Homo sapiens: one gene and its partners. The protein of the gene in region 1 interacts with the protein of each later gene in a biochemical or structural test. Each region holds a gene or a part of one and is shown in the gene's direction. Other genes may lie near its edges.

Region 1 (6,169 bases):
ACTTTAATGGCCTTTTTAATTAGGATATCGGGGCTGGCAAAGGCAAGTATTATGCTGTTAACTACCCGCTCCGAGACGGGATTGATGACGAGTCCTATGAGGCCATTTTCAAGCCGGTAAGTGGCTTTATCCACCCCTTGGGCTACAAACAGGGGATTGGTTGGCGGTGGAGGGGAGCAAAGCACCCCCACCATACCTCAGGAATCTCTCCTTACTAAAGCTGGTGGGGAGATAGAAGTGTTTGAACCCTGGATTGCTGTGTGGTCAGTTAGGGGAACAAACACCCATATTTATTGGTTCCTTCTATGGGTCAGGTCTTCTGCTGGATACAAAAATATCTAAGACATGATCTTTGCCCTCACGGACTATGGTGGGGAAGGCAGGCACATACCCAGTAGTCTATGATTAGTACTGTTTTTGTATCTCCATTTCTTTGGGCTGCTGGGAGATTATTGTGTTCTTTTGGTAGTGGTATGTCTCCTTGGTTTTTTGTGTTCCTCATTGCCTTACATTGATGTCTGCACATTAGAAGAAGTAGGGACTTACTCCAGTCTTTGCAGACTGGCTTTGTCTGGGAAAGCCCTTTGCCAGTCAGCCCATCCAGAGATTCTGGAAAGGCTGTGTGGCATGTTCCATGGGTAGGCTGGCCTAGTGCCTGTGTTTTTGAGGGATGATCAGAGGAATGAGAGACAAACTACTGCCTGGGCTGGCAGGAGGGTAGCCAGGGATGATTTCACAGAGGTGCTGATGTTTAAGCTGGACTTTGGAAAATGAGGAGGTGCCCATGTGAAGAAGGAGGTGATGGCAGTAAGGGTGGCATTTAGTAGAAGGAATGGCACTAGCAGAAGTGCAGAGGTGCCAGTGTGGCAGCATGTAGGCCAGTGTGGTGTATGGGAGGAGTGCTGAAGGAGGCGGTGGGAAGTGTATGCTGGGCTCAGTATTTCAAAGGGAGCCTTGAATGCCATGCCAAGGAGTTAAATCTTCACTTATAAACAGTAAGAAACTGCTTAACCTAATAAGGTCAGGTAGTCATTCAGCAAACACTGACTGCCCACTATGTGCCTAGTATTTAATAAGGGCTACAGAAGTGGGAGTTGTGGTCTCGGTCTCAGTAACGTTAGACTCTGCTTGTGAGAATAAGATAAACTAAAAGTGCTTGCTCATAATGTAAGGCTTCAAGTCTGTAAGACCGAATGAGTAGAGTAGATGCAGCTAAAGGTCAGGAAGGCTTCCTGGAGGAAGTGGCACTAGAGCTTGGGCAACAGAAGAGACTTAGGGAGTTGAGAGGGAGGCCATTCTAGGTTCAGTGTTACTAGAGTGTTAGAAGGGTCTTAGAGAACTTTTTAAATTGGAAAATTGAAATCCCAAGTGGGCAAGCAAGGGCTCCAGCCTAGCACTCCCTTTTCTCTCCCACATAGCATGAGGGAGAGTGGAAAGGTAGGAGTGGGTGGGAAAGTGTTGCACCCAGCCTTTCCACTCCAAACCTCGTATTGCTTTCTTGAGGTTGGTGGTGACCAGGATGTATCATTTTAGGTCATGTCCAAAGTAATGGAGATGTTCCAGCCTAGTGCGGTGGTCTTACAGTGTGGCTCAGACTCCCTATCTGGGGATCGGTTAGGTTGCTTCAATCTAACTATCAAAGGTGAGACCAGGTAGCACAAGGATGGGTGGGCGGGGTCCTGCTTGGTGCTCCTGTAACTCAGCACCCCTTCTCCCACCAAAGGACACGCCAAGTGTGTGGAATTTGTCAAGAGCTTTAACCTGCCTATGCTGATGCTGGGAGGCGGTGGTTACACCATTCGTAACGTTGCCCGGTGCTGGACATATGAGACAGCTGTGGCCCTGGATACGGAGATCCCTAATGGTAATAGCTGCAGGGCCAGGTTCGGCTGGGCTGGGTGGGAGCTGGAGCTCATCTGTCCTTAAGTTTATAACCCCTTCCCCGTTGGTCATATGACCGCTCCTCTTCTGATACTAGTCACTGAGTCTCCTGCCTGTCCTCTTGTGATCAGCAGACCATAACCATCACTTTTTCCCTAGTCCTTTTTAGCTCTCTCCCCTCTCCCTCCTGCTTTTGGTCTGGACAAAGTTCTCATTGGTAATTTACAGCTTTGGAATTTCTACTCTGTAGAGTAACTGGAGTAGCGAGTGAAGGGAGCGCTCATAATGAGCATGGCCTCAAGTGTCCTAAACCAGGGACATGGGCCTTCTCCTAGCGACATATACACCACTGGTACAGACATAGGAGAGTGATGTTAAAAAGATGGAAATCCCATAGGTACCCGTGTCTCACAGTGTCTTGGAGGCATTCTCCTCTGTTTGGATAAATAGGCCCAGAGAAACCTACAAATGCTTTAGGGTGCTTACGTGCAAATGGTTAGGGTGCGGTGGCCAGGTCTCTTGACGGTCTTCTCTCCTGCCCCAATCAGAGCTTCCATACAATGACTACTTTGAATACTTTGGACCAGATTTCAAGCTCCACATCAGTCCTTCCAATATGACTAACCAGAACACGAATGAGTACCTGGAGAAGATCAAGTGAGTATATCCTCCAGCCACCCCTTGGTTGAACATTCCTGACTTTGGTTTGTCCCTGACCAGAGCCCTGCTACTCTCTCCCATTGGCCACAGACAGCGACTGTTTGAGAACCTTAGAATGCTGCCGCACGCACCTGGGGTCCAAATGCAGGCGATTCCTGAGGACGCCATCCCTGAGGAGAGTGGCGATGAGGACGAAGACGACCCTGACAAGCGCATCTCGAGTGAGACCCAGACCTAGAGCCCTATGCCTTCCATTCAATAGGCAGCTCACACTTCCACCACCATTCCTGGCTGCACACTCCCTCCAAGCTCCCCACCTGTAGAGAAATCTGTTTTCGAGTTCCAGTGCCTGTAGGAACAGGTTAGGGAGCCCGAGTTCCTCCCTCTTCTGGTTCCCTTTCCCTTGGTGTCTCTTGGAGGACACGCAGGGAAGCACTGGGCATAGATGCTGAGCTAAATCAGCACCCGCCTGCCCTCTCACCCATGCTTCCCACTCCCTCCCAGTCTGCTCCTCTGACAAACGAATTGCCTGTGAGGAAGAGTTCTCCGATTCTGAAGAGGAGGGAGAGGGGGGCCGCAAGAACTCTTCCAACTTCAAAAAAGCCAAGAGAGTCAAAACAGAGGATGAAAAAGAGAAAGACCCAGAGGAGAAGAAAGGTGGGTTTGGGTTCAGCTGGGACTTGGGTCTCGAGCCTGAGAGGATGAATCTATGTAGGGCAGTGGGAGGAGGGAGTGACTCAGGCCCTGCCAGCTCCTGTGGGGCTCTTCCTCAGTTCCTTGAGCCTTTCAGTGGCTCCCAGAAGTGGCAGAGCCCACAAAACAATGAACCTCTACTGCCTGAGCACGGCTCTCACATACCACCCCAGCCCTTTTCCCAGCACTGCACCCCAGTTTCCCAGGGGGCTGCCTCCGCCCACCAGGTTCTGGCTGTAGCAGGCTGGGAAACCAGTCCAACCTGTTCTCAACAGGGCTCACTGGGAGGACCAGGGATGGGCTTTTCTCTCTTTATGTCCAGTGAGCTGTAGTGTTGGGGAAGGGGTCTCAGGGTAAATGAAGACCTCATGGGTCTTCCCAGAGGTGCTGCCCTTGGCCATCCCTGTACTCTTGTGTTCTAGAAGTCACCGAAGAGGAGAAAACCAAGGAGGAGAAGCCAGAAGCCAAAGGGTGAGGAAGGAGCTGCCTGTGGCCATCTCCCTGGCATTGGAGCACCAGCCCCTTTGTCCCACCACTCTGAGGAAAGGCACAGGGACAGCTGGTCCAGCTTACAAAGGCCTCTTTCAGGGACCAGTCTGTCCAGCTCTGCAGTTCTAGGCAGAGCTAGGAGCCCCAGCCCCCAGTAGTCACCTAGGATCCTGTGGAAGTCACTGTCTGCACTTTTGCCCTGAGGCTCTGGGCTGGGTCATCTCATGCCAGTCTCTGCTCTCTCCACAGGGTCAAGGAGGAGGTCAAGTTGGCCTGAATGGACCTCTCCAGCTCTGGCTTCCTGCTGAGTCCCTCACGTTTCTTCCCCAACCCCTCAGATTTTATATTTTCTATTTCTCTGTGTATTTATATAAAAATTTATTAAATATAAATATCCCCAGGGACAGAAACCAAGGCCCCGAGCTCAGGGCAGCTGTGCTGGGTGAGCTCTTCCAGGAGCCACCTTGCCACCCATTCTTCCCGTTCTTAACTTTGAACCATAAAGGGTGCCAGGTCTGGGTGAAAGGGATACTTTTATGCAACCATAAGACAAACTCCTGAAATGCCAAGTGCCTGCTTAGTAGCTTTGGAAAGGTGCCCTTATTGAACATTCTAGAAGGGGTGGCTGGGTCTTCAAGGATCTCCTGTTTTTTTCAGGCTCCTAAAGTAACATCAGCCATTTTTAGATTGGTTCTGTTTTCGTACCTTCCCACTGGCCTCAAGTGAGCCAAGAAACACTGCCTGCCCTCTGTCTGTCTTCTCCTAATTCTGCAGGTGGAGGTTGCTAGTCTAGTTTCCTTTTTGAGATACTATTTTCATTTTTGTGAGCCTCTTTGTAATAAAATGGTACATTTCTATATCCTCCTGAGCTTGTTTCCTATGTGTCCCTGGGTTGGTTTCAACTCTACTTCCCTGCCGTTCTGGTGTCCATGAGTATTGGGGCAACCCCCTGAACAAGAAAACCCCATAAACTTACCTGCCTGCCTTAACTCCTCCCTTGAGGTTTGAGGTAAACTACTTTCCACCAATCTTCTCACCCTACCCCCAGAAGACCACTCATTAAAGCACCACTAAAGGGACGACATTTATTCCTTTTCCAAATGTTACAGTAAAACCAGGTGGAAGAGAATGGTTTTAGCAGTTAGAAAAAAAAAAAAAGTACAAATCTGGGGTTTGGCCATTAAAAGTTATTTACAACAGTGGGAGAAAAAAAGACAAGAAGTTGTTTCACATTACAGACCTCCCCCCACCCCAAAGCCTAATACTTGCTTACCAAGTCAAAAAAGAGACACAGTTGATTCACAGGCTGGAGGTTTGAACTTGAGTAAGACATTTATAAAAACCTAGACGGGGCAGTGTCCTCCCCAGCCCAGGTGCCACTAGGCACAGCACAAGAGACTAAAAACAACAGGGGAAGGCTGGACACTCAAGGTTTGGGAGTATAAGCACCCCACTTCTGGCTCAGGGATTTGGGGAGTAGGGTAAACAAAACCTACTTGGAAAAGAATTGGGGAAGAAAACCAACAACTGCCTTATGCAGGGGTGGGGACAGGGAAGGAGGTAGGGCCAGGGACAGGAGCATTTCACATCACTAACCTAACTTGGGAAGCTGTAAGGGACCATCTTCAACTGGCCTTAAGAGGAGAACCAGATGGCTGATGGGAGAATCCACAGGAGGGAGAGGAGGAAAGGGAACGTGGCTGGGAGGAGGCAATAGCCCCTTCCTTTCTGGGCACAGGAAGGCAGCCAGGGCACCAGGTCCAGGCAGTGACCTCACAAGGACAGCACAGTTTTTGCAGCTTAGAGATCACCCACCTGCCCCTACCTAGCTACTCATTCTGCTCAGCGCTGGCTGGTGTAGGGCCACTCTCCGGCCCCGAGGGAGTGGATGGCTCTGTAGCCTGGGGCCCTGCCTCTTCTTCTGAGGCTGCACTAGCCTCTGCCCCCTTGGCCTGGGGTTCCTGGCTCTCAGGGGTGGCTGCGGCCTTCCCTTCCTGAGCAGTGCCCTCGTCGCTGCAGGCACCGATCTCCCCCTGCTCCTGCTCTTCCTCTGTGGGTGAGGAGGCAGAAGAATCACCCCCACCCTCCTTCCGATTTCTCTTGAAGGACAGGCCGCTCAATTTGAAAGGCTTCTTGAAAGAGAATTTCTTCTTCTTCTTGGGGGTCTCCTTGGGGGGGACCTCCCCCTTGGCCTCAGCACCCTGGCTAGGGGGTGCTGGCTCGATGGCATCGCCAGTGGCCCCGGCTGCCTCATCTGTTCCGTTCACAGGGGGCGACTCCCCTTCACCCTTGGGGGATAAGTCTCCATTGCTTTTCACGTGGCCATTCTCCTGCAGGGCAGAGGGAATAGCAATGAGGGCAGGGGCTCCCCCTCCCCCAGCCCGCTTCTGATCCCTTCTAGAGGAAGGGGTCCTCGATTCGATTCTACTGCAACCCGAAAGTCTGG
Region 2 (9,125 bases), on another chromosome or scaffold:
AGGCACCTTCCACCCTACCCAGCTAATTTGAGTATGCCATGATTCTTAACAGTAAATACATTGCCTCTGAATACAGAGGCACTGTATGCTGTAAAGACACCATTAAATGCCAGTGTGGTTTAGTACCAATAAATGTTGTTATTACTGATAATCTAACAATTCTCCTCTTATGTCACAGGCTTTGGACTCTAGGTGACACTGTGTTTACTATAGGAATTTCAGCCGCTATCTTCAAATTGAGTGCTTTGCACTTGGTTCTGCTTAAATGGCACTAAAGAGCCCTTTTGGGCTTTTGGCATGGTTCTGTTTGCTTGCTGGCATTTGTTTTGTATGCCCTCCCATAGGAAGAGAACTCAACCAGAAGTAGGAGCATTCTTCCCCTACACCTGCCATGATTATTATGTTGTCCATTGTTTTTAGTACCTTTTGTCTTTTCATTCACTTTCTTTTTAGCTACTTGAGGAAAATGAATGGTTGAGGTGGTTGATTTGGTTCATATTGGATACTTAGTAGGTCCAGAGGATTCTATCCAGTAGGATAGAATTTAGGCCTTATTGGAACTGTGTTTGTCATTCTTCAGAGCAAAGCGCTCTACATTGGAAGCAGGCAGGGGCAGGAGGAAAATGTTGGCATTTCCCTTATTCTACCTCTGTTTATTACCTCTGATGTTGCTTATTGGTCACAGAATATGGGTATATGTAGAGGAGGGGATCGCTGATTATAGTTTACAATCTATAATGTGCTTCGTACTACGCATGGACTATCCCCAGAGCTTGCCCTGGAGGGCAAATAGATTAAGCCTATACATTTGAAAGCCATTTACCTTCAAAGAGGCCTGTTAAAAATCAGCTGCTGCCAAAGTGTGGCTAGATTGAAACAGTCTTGCAAAATGTTTTTAGTTCCTGCTAAGTGCCAACACTGGACCAAGCACTAAGGGACAAGAATATATAAAAATTATTCTCCGGCCGGGTGCGGTGGCTCACGCCTGTAATCCCAGCACTTTGGGAGGCCAAGGCGGGCGGATCACAAGGTCAGGAGATCGAGACCATCCTGGCTAACACGGTGAAACCCCGTCTTTACTAAAAATACAAAAAAATTAGCCGGGCGTGGTGGTGGGCGCCTGTAGTCCCAGCTACTAGGGGAGGCTGAGGCAGGAGAATGGCGTGAACCTGGGAGGCGGGGCTTGCAGCGAGCCGAGATCACGCCACTGCACTCCAGCCTGGGCGACAGAGCAAGACTCCGTCTCAAAAAAAAAAAAAAAAAAAAAAATTATTCTCTTGGGGAAAGCTGTCTCTTGTTGGAGACAAACGTATTTAGAACAAACCTTAATACAAGCCAGCTCCATGTCATGTGCCAATAAAGATGTAAACAGTTTGGGATTAGAAAGAATAATTGAAAGGTATAAGTTTTTCTAATTCTAGGATTTGAAACACACGTATTTTAATTGGCCTAATTTAAAAAAAAAAAAAATACAATGGGCCAGGCGCGGTGGCTCACGCCTGTAATCCCAGCACTTTGGGAGGCCGAGGCGGACGAATCACGAGGTCAGGAGATCGAGACCATCCTGGTTAACACGGTGAGGACCCGCCGTCTCTACTAAAAATTCAAAAAATTAGCCGGGCATGGTGGCAGGCGCCTGTGGTCCCAGCTGCTCGGGAGGCTGAGGCAGGAGAATGGTGTGAACCCGGGAGGTGGAGCTGGCAGTCAGCAGAGATCGCGCCACTGCACTCTAGCCTGGGCGACAGAGTGAGACTCCATCTCCAAAAAAAAAAAAAAAAAAAAAAAAACCTATTTGGGAATTGTTTGAAATACTTCTTATTTCTATTACAGCTGCTGGTAATAGATTCCTGTAATTTGAATTGATGCTGATAATTTGACCGTTTATAAGTCATTTTGTTTGTGTCCACAGAAATCAAGATGACTACCAGCTGGTTCGAAAATTAGGCCGAGGTAAATACAGTGAAGTATTTGAAGCCATCAACATCACAAATAATGAAAAAGTTGTTGTTAAAATTCTCAAGGTGAGTACAAGAGATAATTTCAGAGGTATTTGGAATATAGATTTTTAAAAGTAGTTTTGAAGACTTTTTTAAAACAGCATTTAAAAGGTTTTTGGTGCCAAAGCAAATAAATAAAATTTTATTGTATCCTATGAACTCAATAGAACAAGTTCTGCTTATTTGACAGATCGGGAAACTGAAGCAAGAGAAGTGATTTGAGTTGACTCATATAGCTAGGTTGTGGCAGAGTAAGGGAGCAAAGGTACAGTCTCTTCTCTCCCAGTTATTGCCTAATACTTATTTCCTTTACTTTTCATTATATAATGAGGCTTTTGTTTTCAATAAATAAATCATTGCCTCTACTTTGTAAAGATGAGGAGTCACAGGACTCGAGGGGGACAGACAGATGATATTAGTGCAGCTAGTCGGGTGTAATTGCCCTTGCTTAGGTGATGTGAGTGGTAGGGACTGAAACAAACTGGGAAACACATGCCTCTTCAAAAGGAGTTAGCTGCTTCTCAGCTGAAGCTGATGATTGCCCTGCAGTAATGCAAGTCCATTGTTGCTTGATACTCTGTTTTGCAAATAAAAGCCAGAAATTTATATTTGTATATGAATTTTCCTGACTTTTAAGTGTTGGCTCAAGATTTTAAAAAAACAATGCACAGGCCAGATTTGGCCTCTGGGAGACCAATATACAACTTTTAATTTAGTTATAACTATGCTGTGCACTGTCATATATTGGGAACTTAGCATATAGTTCCTTACCACAGGAACTTTTTCATATTTGACACTGAAAAGTAGAAGTTTCCAAACTTTCTCAATTTATAACACTTATACTGTCTTTAATTTTTCACGGTACTCCTAAGTCAAGAAATACCTCATAGTTCTCTGTATTAAGTAGCAAGGTCCAAATAGCTAAGTAAGTTTTGTTTTTTTTATTGTTTTTGTTTTTGTTTTGAGAAGGAGTCTCGCTCTGTCGCCCAGGCTGGAGTGCAGTGGCGCGATCTCGGCTCACTGCAACCTCCGCCTCCTGGGTTCAAGCGATTCTCCTGCCTTAGCCTCCCAAGTAGCTGGGACTACAGATGCACGCCAGCAATGCCCGGCTAATTTTTGTAATTTTAATAGAGACGGGGTTTCACCATATTGGTCAGGCTGGTCTCAAACTCCTGACCTCAGGTGATCCGCCCGCCTCGGCCTCCCAAAGTGCTGGGATTACAGGCGTGAGCCACTGCGCCTGCCCGCTAAGTATTTATATCTTAGCAACTTGGTAGCCATTTAAAAAGTTATTCACATAAATTAAAAGAAAAAAGTTAAATTTGTTCTTATATAACTATAATTTGTTACTGTTGGGTTATGTAGACCTGTTGCTGCATAGCTTTTCAAATGTTGTCATTGGTTGGACACCACCACCCTCATTTCCTGTCATTGATTTTTGTGCAGTACTTGCTTTTTACCACAGCAACTACTGCAAACCCAGCTTCACAAAAATATGCCATCGCGAGGAGTATAACACAATCCATCACGAGGAGTGTAACACAATCTAATGTTGAAACTACGAACCACCTCAAGCTGGCAGTGCACCCAGTGTCTGGCAGATTCAACGATGGGTTGATGTGTCTTCCTCAAAAATGTAAAGTGTTCCACAGTATTCCTGTGCATTGCTGGGGTGCTTCACATGCCCTTTGAGAACCAGAGAGTTTAAGTATTTATATCTGTCTTGAAATATGTAGAAAGAGAACTAGGTTGGAAATCAAAACATGTGGGTGACTAGCCATAGTAGTCCTTTTAACCTAGGACATGTTTATCCATCTATTAAAAAGAATGTTGGCTGAGCATGGTGGCATGTGCCTTTAGTCGCAGGTCCTCGAGGGGCTAAAGTGGGAGGATCGCTTGAGCCTGGAAGTTGAAGGTTGCACGGATCTATGATCAAACCACTGCACTCCAGCCTGGGCGATGAGAATGAGACCCTGTCTCAAAAAACAAAAAGGATCAAACACAAAATTGTGTGTATATATACATACGTTGGAGACTGGAGTTCTTTGTGATTGTATGGTGATATTCATATGGAAAGGTATATGATAGAATGAGGTGATATATTATTATTTAGAGCCACATGAAAAGCATGCATAGTGGGTCTACAGTTCAGAAGAGGGTAGTAGTTAGGAAAAGCTCCCAGGAGCTGTCTTCAGGCTGAATGGGAGGAGGATTTGGATAGGTGTTGGGTGGAAGTGGTGAAGGGAAGCAGGCTGTAGAGTGCACCAAGATAAGAAAAGAGGAGGAGGGAAAAGTGAGAGAAATATTTCATGTGAAAGATGTTATGTGACCATACATAGGAGTTGAACTTGGAAAGAGAGATTAAGTTGGCGAAGGCCTGGAAAAAATAATCTCTGCATTTCCTTGCAGTCTTAAAATTATATGACTATCTCTTCTAGGTAATTGTGAGCCCTTGATGATTTTGAATGAAGGGTGATTTAGAAAGATTTTTTTCAGCTCAGTCTTTCTAACTGTATTGTATATTTTACTGTAACTGTGGGTAGGTGGTGTAAGTATAGATGAATTTCCTTTGTAAACCATATTTAAAATTTTTAATCTCCCCTATTTAATAAGACAAAAGTTGCATTGATCGCATTAAATTCGGGCCTGAGTCAGCTGCCTGGTCTGTCACAAACCAGCTTTTTAAGTTTATAGATTTGAAGCATTCTGTAGAGTAGTTTTGTCAACCAGAAGCTTTTTTTTTCCACTAAAAAACCAGCAGTTGGGTTAATGGAAAACAGGAGGTAAGTTGTTGGGTTAGTCTCTGCAGGGTGGAAAGATCTCCCAGATAATATAACAGTTTATAAAGATCTGAATAGTTGAAGCAGGAAGAGAAGACTTATATTATCTTGTTTCTTAGGTAGATATTGTATTGGGTAAGAGGTCGTGGGTTGAATTCAATGGACTACATGGAAGTCATTAGTAAAATAGCTTCTGTTTATTGGGTACCACTTTGCATTGGACCTGTTCTAACTGTGGTATGTAAATCACTAACAGGCGAGTATAGTCCCTTTCAGCAGTGAGAAACATTTAAATGCTTTTCTGAACACTGCACAACCACAAAGCCAGGTTTTGAGAACTGTCAATGTTTCCAAAATCTGCTTGCTTTCTGCTATCATGTGCTTGAGGCTTAAGACAAAGTTAAAAGAATTTATAGTATTATTTGGTAGTTTCTGGACCTGGATCATCAGCCTGGAAAGTATCTAAAAATAAATCCCCCGTTTCCCTCTCAAGATTTTGATTTAGTGAATCTTGGTGGGTTCTGTGAGTCTGTATATTAAAAAAATCCAGGTGATTGTTGGTCATCAAACTTTAGTAACCACCAATCTTGTTAATGAAGAGATGAGATGTACTTAACTTCTAAGAGTTATATGCAGTGCATCTAGTCTGAGGTGACCAACACCCTAGGAAAAGACCTGCACAGTCCAGTACAGCAGGCACGCAGGCCACATGAGGCTGTTAAGCACTTGAAATATGGCTGGGCTGAATTGAGATATGCTGTAAGAGTAAAATACATTAGATTTCAAGGGTTTAATACAAAAAAAGGTAAAATAGATTAATAATTTTTATATTGATTTATATGTTAAGATTTTAGATTAATAAAGTACATTAATTTTGTCCTTTTTAAAATTTTCTTGATGTGGCTACTAACACATTTAAAATTACACATGTGGTTTGTATTATATTTCCTTTGGGCCAGCACTGTTTTAGACTATTCAGGAGAAGGCTTTATAATATAAGCCCAGGCACAGTGGCTCATGCCTATAATCCCAGCACTTTGGAAGGCCAAGGCAGGCGGATCATGAGGTCAGGAGTTCGAGACGATCCTGACCAACATGATGAAACCCTGTCTCTACTAAAAATACAAAAATTAGCTGGGCATGGTGGCTGGCGCCTGTAATCCCAGCTACTCGGGAGGCTGAGGCAGGAGAATTGCTTGAACCCGGGAGGCGGAAGTTGCAGTGAGCTGAGATCATGCTACTACACTCCAGCCTGGGCGACAGAGCAAGACTCTGTCTCAAAAAAAAAAAAAGGCTTTATAAAGGAGGTGCAGTGGGACCAAGGCCCTCCTCAGAAAAAAATGAAAAGGATTCCATACTAGAACAGATGTGGAAAGAATGGGTAAGGACAAAGGAATGTTTAAGATATGCTCTGCAGAATACTCTTTAGAATGGAGGGGTTCATTTATAAGAGTATTGGCACTTTGGGAGGCCGAGGCAGGCAGATCACGAGGTCAGGAGATCGAGACCATCCTGGCTAACACGGTGAAACCCCGTCTCTACTAAAAATACAAAAATTAGCCTGGCCTGGTGGCGGGTGCCTGTAGTCCCAGCTACTCGGGAGGCTGAGGCAAGAGAATGGCGTGAACCCAGGAGGCGGAGGTTGCAGTGAGCCAAGATTGCACCACTGCACTCCAGCCTGGGTGACAGAGCAAGACTCTGTCTCAAAAAAAAAAAAAAAAAAAAAAGAGCATTGGTGATCAGGCTAGACAGTTATTATTATGTTATGTTTCAGCCATATTCCGAAATCTTTCGAATACCTCATTTGATTCTTGCAACAATCTTATGAGATGGGTACTCTTGTTACTCATTTTACACTTAATGAAAGGCTTAGAGAGGTTATGTAGTTTGCCATTAACAGCCAGCAGGTAGTAAAGGTAGGTTTCACATTGGGCATTGTGACTCCAAGACTCACCCTTTACCCTCAGGGTTGTGCTACACAAAGATGTTTTGGCCATCCTTGTTGTTGGCCCTAATTAGAGGAAGAAATGGAAAGGGCCCATGTTTCATCCTAATTGATAAAAAGTTTGATATACTTTAGTATTACTAACGATTTAAATTGCTACTTTGTAAGGTTTTAAGACATTAACATGTTTAACATGTTTTAAAACATTAACATCAAGACTGATGATTGAAATGCTAATTCTGCAGAAGTGTCTGGTCTTTGGAATAGAAATCTTTTTTTCTTTCAATTCAACATTTGTAAGTACCTGCAGAATACCTGGCACAGTGCTAGGAGAAGGATTCAGAGACGAATGTGACACATTTTCTTCCTTCAAGGTGTGCTCATAAGTAAGCCATTTATCATTTATGTATTACACTACGTGTTGAAATACTCTGAAAAAATTTTTTTTTTTTTTTTTTGCTGATGTACTTTTCCCCTTTCAGCCAGTAAAAAAGAAGAAAATTAAGCGTGAAATAAAGATTTTGGAGAATTTGAGAGGAGGTCCCAACATCATCACACTGGCAGACATTGTAAAAGACCCTGTGGTGAGTATAGTAGGTGTTAGCAAGGCCCGCCAGAGCTGAGATGGTGTTTGACCTGGAGCACAACTGGCCTCTTTTTGTTCCCTCCCCCAACCCTCATCATTAAGTCCTGCTTTGAAAGTGCTTAATCAGATATACCATTTAACTAGCTTGGGTCTTTCTTTCAAAGAGACCTCCACCCACAGACTATTTCTTATTCTTCTAGGCTAAGAGACTGATAGCACTGGAAACTGAAATGTGTTAATCCATTTTGCAAACTCAGGTCCGATGCCGATGGGCGATGGGCGCATTGTCGGGCTGCCTAGAGCCTGGTGAGACTTCAGCTCCATGTCTTCTGTTTGAAATCCATCCCAAAAATGACCTAAGTGCGGTGATGATCAGAGCGGGGAGGGCTTGTAGCAATAGAGGGTTTCTTACTACTGAGGCGAGGACTGCCAAATTTCACCACGCAGCATCCGCAAACATTGTCCCCATTAAAGCTGTCAGGGCTATTGCTAATGTGTGTTTTTGTTTTTGTTCTTTTCCCCTAGTCACGAACCCCCGCCTTGGTTTTTGAACACGTAAACAACACAGACTTCAAGGTATAATATATAACCAACTGTTTCGGGCTAGTGGGTTTTTAGACCACATAGCCTTTGGGGATGATGCTGTTAGAAGAGCTTGCTTCGCATTTGTTTTTAAAAAGCTTTTCATCCTTACAGTGCAAATTTTAAGATAGAAGAACTCCTATATAAGCAGTGCCCACTTTCTGCATCTTGATATTTTGCCCATTTGTTTAATGTTCTTTTTAATGACCAACACATTGACTTCTCACTACTTAGTTGACAGTTTCTGCTGATGTCCAACCTAATGAAGGCAGTAACACACGTTCACTTAGGATCTGGCCATATGGCAATTCGCTTTAAACAATAGTGTTCAGGAAGAAATATATTGTATGTATAAAAGTAGGGACTGCTTATTTCTTAGGATTCCTCATAAACTGTGGGCTATAGATCTTAAAAGGCAGGGATCGAGGAAGGATAATGTCAAATTCTGCCATAACACAAACCTCTATAAGAGATATCTCAGAATTCCAGTCTATCCAGTGGCCTACTTATTTCACACAGTTCCAATTTTACAGAAGAATATAGCTACTCTTTTGGAGTAAAAGTAAAAATCTTCGATTTGCCTTTCCACCAGTCCAGTATCCAGAATGTTATATATTAATAAATTAGTGAATTCTGTTGCAGAGATAGGGAGAAAGGAAGAGGAACTGCTTTAGAGTCAGAATGATAATTTCAAGAAAAACTTTGTCAGAAGACGTTGCTAACCATTAAAGAGACGTACCTGTGGCTGGGCATGGTGGCTTTCGCCTGTAGTCCTAGCTACTGGGGAAGCTGAGGTAGGAGGATCGCTTGAGCCCAGGAGTTTGAGGTTGCAGTGAGTTATGATTGCAGCACGGCACTCCAGCCTGGGCAGCAGAGTGAGGACCCTGTCTCAAAAAAAAAAAAAAAAAAAAAAGATATGTCCATGTAAAAAACATTCTGCAACTCTTTGGAAACTGGAAAGGATACATAACAGTTGTTCAGAGTTTACTTTCCAATTGGAACAAGAATAGTTTTGTTAAATTGACTCAACAGGTTTGGTATCATGCCATCTGCATACCCACTGGTGATCTGCAGGGCCAACTATGTAAGGCAAAGATGAGTTAGTTCCCTACTAAGGAGGCAGTATATTTGCCAAAATGCCTCTTTTGAGAAGGTCTGAAGATACATGAAAAGCAAACTAAATTATAGGTGGGTGTCAGTGCATATTAACGTATCTAGATCAGTATGTTTCTGAC
Region 3 (7,680 bases), on another chromosome or scaffold:
CTCCCGGGACTACTCGGCCATGATCAAGCACCTGAGAACGCACAACGGCGCCTCGCCCTACCAGTGCACCATCTGCACAGAGTACTGCCCCAGCCTCTCCTCCATGCAGAAGCACATGAAGGGCCACAAGCCCGAGGAGATCCCGCCCGACTGGAGGATAGAGAAGACGTACCTCTACCTGTGCTATGTGTGAAGGGAGGCCCGCGGCGGTGGAGCCGAGCGGGGAGCCAGGAAAGAAGAGTTGGAGTGAGATGAAGGAAGGACTATGACAAATAAAAAAGGAAAAGAAAAAAAAAAACAGAAGGAAAAGGAAACCTGGTAGCTTTTTGGCCTTGGATTCTCTCTGGGCTCCAGATGACCTGGATGCCAAGCCACTGCCCCTCCTCTGGGGGCCTCCACCCTCCTCTCCCGGCTGGAGGTTTGCCTGATTTTCTGGGATGGGGTTGGGTATTTTGTTCACTCAAATGGTGGCACATTTTTCTCCTTCCTTCACCCAGACCTTCTTTTATGTGTCCAGAAATGGAGGCTAGAAAGCAGGTGAGAGGTCCTCTGGTCAGAGCCACACGGTCTGTGCCGGCCTTCCTCCACCAAGACCCCCAGGAGATGAAGGGAGGGAGGAGGTGAGCCAGAAGGGCGCTCCCCTGCTGATGGGTCTGGGCTGGGTCACTAGCTGCTCAAAATGGCAGCTCTAGTTTGCTGGCGGCTGACTGGGGAGGAGAAGGGCTCTGTTTCTCTTCCCACCACTCAGCCCACCTGCTGCTTTCCTCTGCTTTGCCACATCTGGGTGTCCCCCGGTGGTCTCTGAGAGCCTCAGGACCCCTGCCCCTCCTCCAGCTCTTTGTTCCCAGCCTCCCCTTGACTCCTGTCCTCCAAGTCCCAGGGGAGTCCCAGCCCCTCAGGGACCTGGCGGTGTCTCCATCCTTCTCCGGTTCCCTAGTGGGATAGCTGCCTCTGACTTCAGGGTCCCTCCTACCCTCAGCCTTCTGAGAACACAAAACAAATCCAATACCCCACCCTAGTCCAGCACCATCGTGAGCAAGATTCCTGCTGCGCTGCTTCCAAAATGGAAAAGCATCACAACTAAATACCTAATATCCTACCAAACAAACCACAGTCCCTACGTAGCCCTACTTCAGTCCCAGGAGAAGGAATCCATGAATGGGCTGAGGTTCCGAGGGTAGGTTGTGGATGTCTTTCTCTAGAGGGGTCCCACACCTGGAAAAGAGGACACCCAGCCCGTGGGATGAGGGAAGCTGGGCAAGGGAGAAAGTTGTTGAGTCACACTGGGGACCCCAGATGTAGTGAGCTCAGCAAGAAAAGCCAGGTCCAGAGAGAGTCGCACAGAATTCCTGACTCACAGCGCCCCTCGGTCCACAGTGGAGAGGAGGAGGAGGAGGAGCAGAAGGAGGGGGAGGAGCTGCAGGAGGAGGAGGATTTGAAAGCGCTTTGGCCTTGTGTTATGTTTTGCTTCTTTTCTGTGTCCCCTGTTAGCACATTGTACTTGAATTACCTCAGTTTTTTGTGACCTCATGAGCTTTCTTAACCTCTGTATCTCTTTTTCGGTTGGGGCTTGGAGGAATGGGGAGGGTGTTCTTTTCTGTTTCTTGTGTAAATTAATAGTTGTTTTTATAGACTTCAGCTGGTCAAGACCCTCCCCGTGCCCCTGGAGACCAGCCTCCCAGCTGGCAGGAACTGTGCAGGAGGAGTTGATACTCAGGATCTGAATGTGAGGGCCGAGGAGGGCGAAGAGCGTGGGTGGGGAGGGGATGTTGCTTTGGGGTCTCATGGTCCCCAGAGGGCACTAGGGAGTCACTTTTGGCTCCGCTGGTGCATGAAGTCACCTGTGGCCACCATCCGTTCCGCCTAAAACACTCTGGAGAGAATCCCACCTTTCTTACAATTTGCTGGGCCATTGAGGTTTGAGGGCCTGTGTTTGGATCCTTGCAACTGTGTGGTCTCACCTCTGTGCGTGCATTCTCATTGCCAGAATTGGTCTATTTTCACGGCTGGTCTTTGGGGAGGGGGGCGGGATCCAGCCTTTGTTTTGTTGTGTTGGGGTGGGGGTGTTGTTTTTCTAAAAGCTACCTCTTATGTTTGTCCAGTTGTTCTTTTGTTCCTTTCCCGCCTCCCATTCTGCTGCTCTTCCTCCCTCTTTTCCCCAACCTCCCCCGACCCTCCTGAATTTTGGAAAGCACATTTGCAATATTCGTGTTTGCTTTGGGACGGACCCTCCGTTTCATCTCATGCTTTATGTGTAAGAGTTTTTTATTATTATTTTTTCTTTCCTTTCTCTCTCTGAGAAAGTTGTGGCTGCGTTTTGATCTTAGGTTTTACAAAGTGGTTTAGGGAAGCGGTTTTGGGGAGAAGGATCACGAGGAATGTAGGGAAGCCGGAGGGATGGGTGCTGCTGCGACGACCCCCCCGTCCCTCGGCCCCAGCCCTCCTGCCCTCCCCTTCAATCTCATCCACCAAATCTGAAGGCCTTAAAATTGTGTGTTGGGAGGATGTGAATTGGGAGGACGGTGTCACTAGACTGTGGATTAGGGATGGTAAAGTAGGGAGGATGCTATTTTGCAACTATAGTAACGACTTAGTGTTTTGGAAAGGAAAAGAAGTTAAACTTGAAATACGTGACTAGAACAGTTGTCATGTTTATAATGTGAAAAGGGTGAAATCATTTGGGGGAGGGGCCGTCTGTAAGAAATCATTATGCACTATGGCTTCCTCCTCTGGTCTGGGAAGAAGCGGGGACTGGCTGGCCCTCAGGGGATCTGTAAATCCCAGAAAACAGTATTTTTAACAGCAAGATGTCATTCAACATTGGTGGGGAAGGAAGAGAAAAAAATCAAACTATTCCATAGAACTAGCTGGCCCCCTCACTCCCATGCCCTTCCCACTCAGCCTGGGCCCCTCCCCGCTCCATTCATAAAAGCTGAGAGGGTTGAGCTAATCTTCACAAATTGTAATATTTTTGTAGTATCTGTTAGTTCCTTCGTCAGTTCTGCAGAACCTTGCCCTTTCCTTTTGTAATGTGAATAGGAAGACAAAAGACAAAAAAAAATCCACCACCACCAAAATATCCCTTTGTACATGTATGTGCGTGTGCGCGTGTGCTTTGTGTGTGTGGTTGTGTGTTAAATCATGCAGTATTGTCGTAATCTGGTGTTGCAGCAATGGATGGTACTAAATCAGCACCTGGATGCCCCACCCAACCCCGTGGGCCCTGCAGACCCCAGTAGGGAGGTATGGGGAGAGCTCAGGGGAGTGTGGTTTCTGAGGGCTACTGTCTGGGGACACCTCTGAACTTACTGTACCTTCCTCTCCCCATGAAGACACCTGAATAGAGTCTAACATGCCTCTTCTCCAACTTCCTACCTACAACAACAGAACAGTTCTAATGTTGCACGGCCTAGTGGCCAGGGGGCAAGCTAAGAGGCTGTCTGGAGGCTTTATATGTGTCTGGAGTTAAGGGGAGAGGAGGAGGGTAGACAGGGGTCTCTCCCCAGGTGGGATCTGAATATCTGTCCTCCCCTCTTCTTCATGCCACCTGACTCCTTCGGCCCCCTGGCTGCCTTTAGCTGTGGTACTGCTGACAACCCTGCTTGCTACTGCCTTATCCAGCACAGTGAAAAACTTCTCCAGCCTGGCAAGGCCACGTTGGTTAATAGTCCCTTTCCCATGTCCAGCTCCTACAAATATGTCCCTTAATGCATTTGGTGACATTTACACCTCATGTGCTCTTTCCCTATTCACTCCTTCACTCATTCAAAGCATTAAAATCCTATGTATATATAGGATAGACAAATATATAGATATATAGATATATATATATATAGCAAGAGATTGATATAAAATAGTAAATATCATTGCTGCTTTGGGCTGCTTTGGAGGAGGAGGCCATGAATATGGGGAAGGCAGATCTGGGGTGCAGGGGTAGGTAGGGAGGCTGGGGGACCCAGTGATTCAGTACAATCCAAGGGATGCAACGCGGGCTTGTTTAATCTTTGTGCCTGAACAGTTTTTCCATGTTGAGAAAAAAAAGAAAAAAAAACTGCTGCAATTTTTCACAAGTGTATGGTACCTTTCTGGATGCTATTGGTACAATTGCTGTGGATGGAAGAGGGCCATTGAGCTTACCTCCCTATAGGGGAGAGAGCAGAGGTGGGGCAGCCTTTCGACTCTGTCCATGACGGCTGGCAGGGTCAGGGTAGTTTCTGGGCCTGCTTCCCGGCAAGCCGAGCTAGGGTGAAAACTGGGGGCGCACCAGGATGTGAGACAGAAAAGCAGAAGATGAGACTCTGTTCATTCACTTTTCCTAGGCCCATCCTGTGGTCATCTTTCCCCCTCCCATCATACCTCCTCCTTCCTGGAGCCTCTGCCGGCTTGGCTGTAATGGTGGCACTTACCTGGATATTTCAGTGGGAGGATGAAAGGCGAGACTCACCCTACGCGGTGGGACAGATGGGGAGAGGAAAAAGGCAGAGATGGCCAGGAGAGGGGTGCAGGACAAACCAGAGAGGTTGGGTCAGGGGAAAAGGGTGGGGAGAAAGAGGGGTGCAGGCCCTGCAGGCCGGTTAGCCAGCAGCTGCGGCCTCCCCGGGCCCTTGGCATCCAACTTCGCAGACAGGGTACCAGCCTCCTGGTGTGTATCATAGGATTTGTTCACATAGTGTTATGCATGATCTTCGTAAGGTTAAGAAGCCGTGGTGGTGCACCATGACATCCAACCCGTATATATAAAGATAAATATATATATATATGTATGTAAATTATAGCACTGAGGGCCCTGCTGCCCTGCTGGACCAAGCAAAACTAAGCCTTTTGGTTTGGGTATTATGTTTCGTTTTGTTATTTGTTTGTTTTTGTGGCTTGTCTTATGTCGTGATAGCACAAGTGCCAGTCGGATTGCTCTGTATTACAGAATAGTGTTTTTAATTCATCAATGTTCTAGTTAATGTCTACCTCAGCACCTCCTCTTAGCCTAATTTTAGGAGGTTGCCCAATTTTGTTTCTTCAATTTTACTGGTTACTTTTTTGTACAAATCAATCTCTTTCTCTCTTTCTCTCCTCCCCACCTCTCACCCTTGCCCTCTCCATCTCCCTCTCCCGCCCTCCCCTCCTCCCTCTGGCTCCCCGTCTCATTTCTGTCCACTCCATTCTCTCTCCCTCTCTCCTGCCTCCTGCTGCCCCCTCCCCAGCCCACTTCCCCGAGTTGTGCTTGCCGCTCCTTATCTGTTCTAGTTCCGAAGCAGTTTCACTCGAAGTTGTGCAGTCCTGGTTGCAGCTTTCCGCATCTGCCTTCGTTTCGTGTAGATTGACGCGTTTCTTTGTAATTTCAGTGTTTCTGACAAGATTTAAAAAAAAAAAAAAAGGAAAAAAAAAGAAAAAATGAATTTACTGCTGCAGGTTTTTTTCTCTCTCCATGTGTCACTAAGTGAAGTTTGTGCCTTCTATAGCAAAGAGAATATTTTTTACATCCTACTAACAGTAGATTTTTTTGTAGTGAACATTTTTTGTATTTTTATTTATAAGTCTCATAAGAAAAATAGCAATGTTCAGTTGTATACCTTGAATCTGCAGTTAGAAGAGAATAAAGTTAATTCAGTTGTCTCTCGCTTGAAGCGTCCCACCTTTTTATTGAAGTACTTGGTTTTGTTTTGTTTTTTTTTTTTGTTTTTTTTGCCTTTTCTTGTGTGGGGAACATGGTAGAGGAATTAAGATTTTTGTGTGGGGACTGGGAAAAAGAAAGCTCTGTATTACACATATTTAGACTTATCTATGTGTCACTTTTATGCCACATTTACAAGGCACAGATGCACTGAATAACATTTTTCTAATACTTTTTAGTTAAAAAATGTTAAATACGTTAATATCGTATGATCCTTGGTACAATGTGCTAGGTAGGCACTTGTTCACTTATTCAGCAAGACCACCATGTACCAGTTACTGTTGTCGGCGCTGGGAATTACAGCAAAGGACAAACAGACAAACCCTGGCCGCCCTGGGGCTACCATGCTAGCGGGCCGCTGAGTCGGAATCCGTGGCTGTGTTAGGATAACTTGCTCAGGATTGCACGGCTGGTGAGCAGCAGTCAGAACTCCATCCACCTCTCCTGATACCAGGCCAGGTTCCTTTACTCCAGAGTTCTCAAAGCAGGGGTCTCACGTCTTCTTTAGTCTTTAGAGAGACATTTTCAACTGACTCCTTAGTGGCTAAGCAAGCTTCAGAAATTTCTCAACAAGAAGCTTCCACACAATCAAAGGTCCCTGCCTGCGTCTGTAGCAGCCAAGAGCTGTTAAGAAAGGAGATTGGAGCAGGTGGCCTTGTGCAGGGGAGGGGATGGGTGGGAGGTGGCCGTGCAAGCTCTGCATTGTCATGGACGGAATAAAGGATTTCCACAACACTCAATGGGTACGATTCCCTCCCTGTCTCATCTCCCTGTGTCTGGGCCAAGCCCTCTTCTCTGGCCCTTTCCCCGTTCCTCTTATCGGGGATAGAAGCATCGCCCTATCTTTAGCTGTAAAACCAAAGCCACTCAATCCTAGACGTGGTGCTTCAGCACCTCTGCCTGAGGCCGTCCTCACTGCCTGTCTCTGACCAAAATAACCCCTCTCCTCCTCAAGACCCAGGGGACACAGCCATGATTGTCGTGCTGGGTCACTCCGGTAGGGTAAACCCACACCGAGCATCAGGCCTGGCCTCCAGCATCACCAGGAGTCGCAGGGAGCCATCACCCCACGCGCCACCGCCACCCACCTGGGGAGCCAAACAAGGCCTGGCCTGCCAGGGGTGGCACTGGGAGGGTTACCTTTCAGCCCTGTTCTCCTGGGGCCAAGACCCGGGTCTGTCTGACCCTGGGGTTGCTGAGCAGAAACCGCCTGGAGCTACCCCTACCACCGGACAATCTTCCCAGGAGGAGGAACAGGTGCAGCCTGGGGGCCTCCAGCCCCTAGAAGTTGCTTCTCTGTCTTTGCTTTCTCCTCTCCCTCTTTGCCGTCTGCTGTGCTTTCTTGACCCCTCCTGCCCCTCATCTTTTTCCTCTCTCCCAATCTTTTTTCTCTCCTTTCCACTCCTCCCCTCTCTTCCTCATCTGTGGTCTTTTCTCCTTTCTTTTTGCTTTTGTTTCTCTGTCCCACCTTATTTTCCCTCTCCACATATTTCTCATCTGGGAAACCAGTCCTTAACCAAATTCTGTGTTTTGATTTTGAGCAGTTGCCACCATTCCCCCAAGCCGTCCTGATCCTGGCTTTTCTTGGGCCCCTGCCTATTTCCTCACCCCCACACTCTACTCCAACTCCCCGACACACACACACAGACACACACACACAGCCTCCTCGCCCCTCCCCCAGCTCCCCTCCCCTCCCTCAGGCCTCAGCTTTCTCTTGACAGATGGGAGGGCAGTGAGCACTCCCTCTTTAAAACAACATTTAATCGCCGTTTTCTGTTCTTGGACATCAAAGCTGGGGCTTAGGCGCTGTGCTGGGGTCGCGGCGGCGCGGGCGCTGGGGGAGAGGAGGTGAGTGAATAGGGGCTGGGCTGAATGGGCTTTGTGTGACCGCCAGCTCTGCCAGCTTTACATGCTCTTTGACCCAGATATGATCTCATGGAGAGAAAGGGGCCCTGGCCAGGCCAGCCTGAGAATGCTCCCTCCGTGGCCTGACTCAACCCCTCTCCTCCCTG

What was found. Proteins that work in one complex are often made in the same cells at the same time.
Region 2: of the proteins of HDAC1 (region 1) and CSNK2A1, one has a biochemical effect on the other in vitro, tested with the Homo sapiens proteins (3 studies listed by BioGRID and IntAct).
Region 3: the proteins of HDAC1 (region 1) and ZBTB16 form a complex in vitro, tested with the Homo sapiens proteins (5 studies listed by BioGRID).

The regions. Positions count from the first base shown.
Region 1 is NC_000001.11:32,329,045-32,335,213, forward strand, and holds the end of HDAC1 (histone deacetylase 1), read left to right. Parts: intron 1-23; coding exon 24-116; intron 117-1,533; coding exon 1,534-1,642; intron 1,643-1,723; coding exon 1,724-1,864; intron 1,865-2,429; coding exon 2,430-2,538; intron 2,539-2,631; coding exon 2,632-2,762; intron 2,763-3,045; coding exon 3,046-3,198; intron 3,199-3,656; coding exon 3,657-3,705; intron 3,706-3,972; coding exon 3,973-4,000; 3' UTR 4,001-4,582; downstream 4,583-6,169. Other genes in the region: MARCKSL1 (MARCKS-related protein), read right to left, coding at 5,553-6,053. UniProt on the Homo sapiens protein: Histone deacetylase that catalyzes the deacetylation of lysine residues on the N-terminal part of the core histones (H2A, H2B, H3 and H4).
Region 2 is NC_000020.11:498,014-507,138, reverse strand, and holds part of CSNK2A1 (casein kinase II subunit alpha), read left to right. Parts: intron 1-1,909; coding exon 1,910-2,021; intron 2,022-7,204; coding exon 7,205-7,306; intron 7,307-7,833; coding exon 7,834-7,884; intron 7,885-9,125. UniProt on the Homo sapiens protein: Catalytic subunit of a constitutively active serine/threonine-protein kinase complex that phosphorylates a large number of substrates containing acidic residues C-terminal to the phosphorylated serine or threonine.
Region 3 is NC_000011.10:114,250,363-114,258,042, forward strand, and holds the end of ZBTB16 (zinc finger and BTB domain-containing protein 16), read left to right. Parts: coding exon 1-193; 3' UTR 194-6,403; downstream 6,404-7,680. UniProt on the Homo sapiens protein: Acts as a transcriptional repressor. Transcriptional repression may be mediated through recruitment of histone deacetylases to target promoters. May play a role in myeloid maturation and in the development and/or maintenance of other differentiated tissues.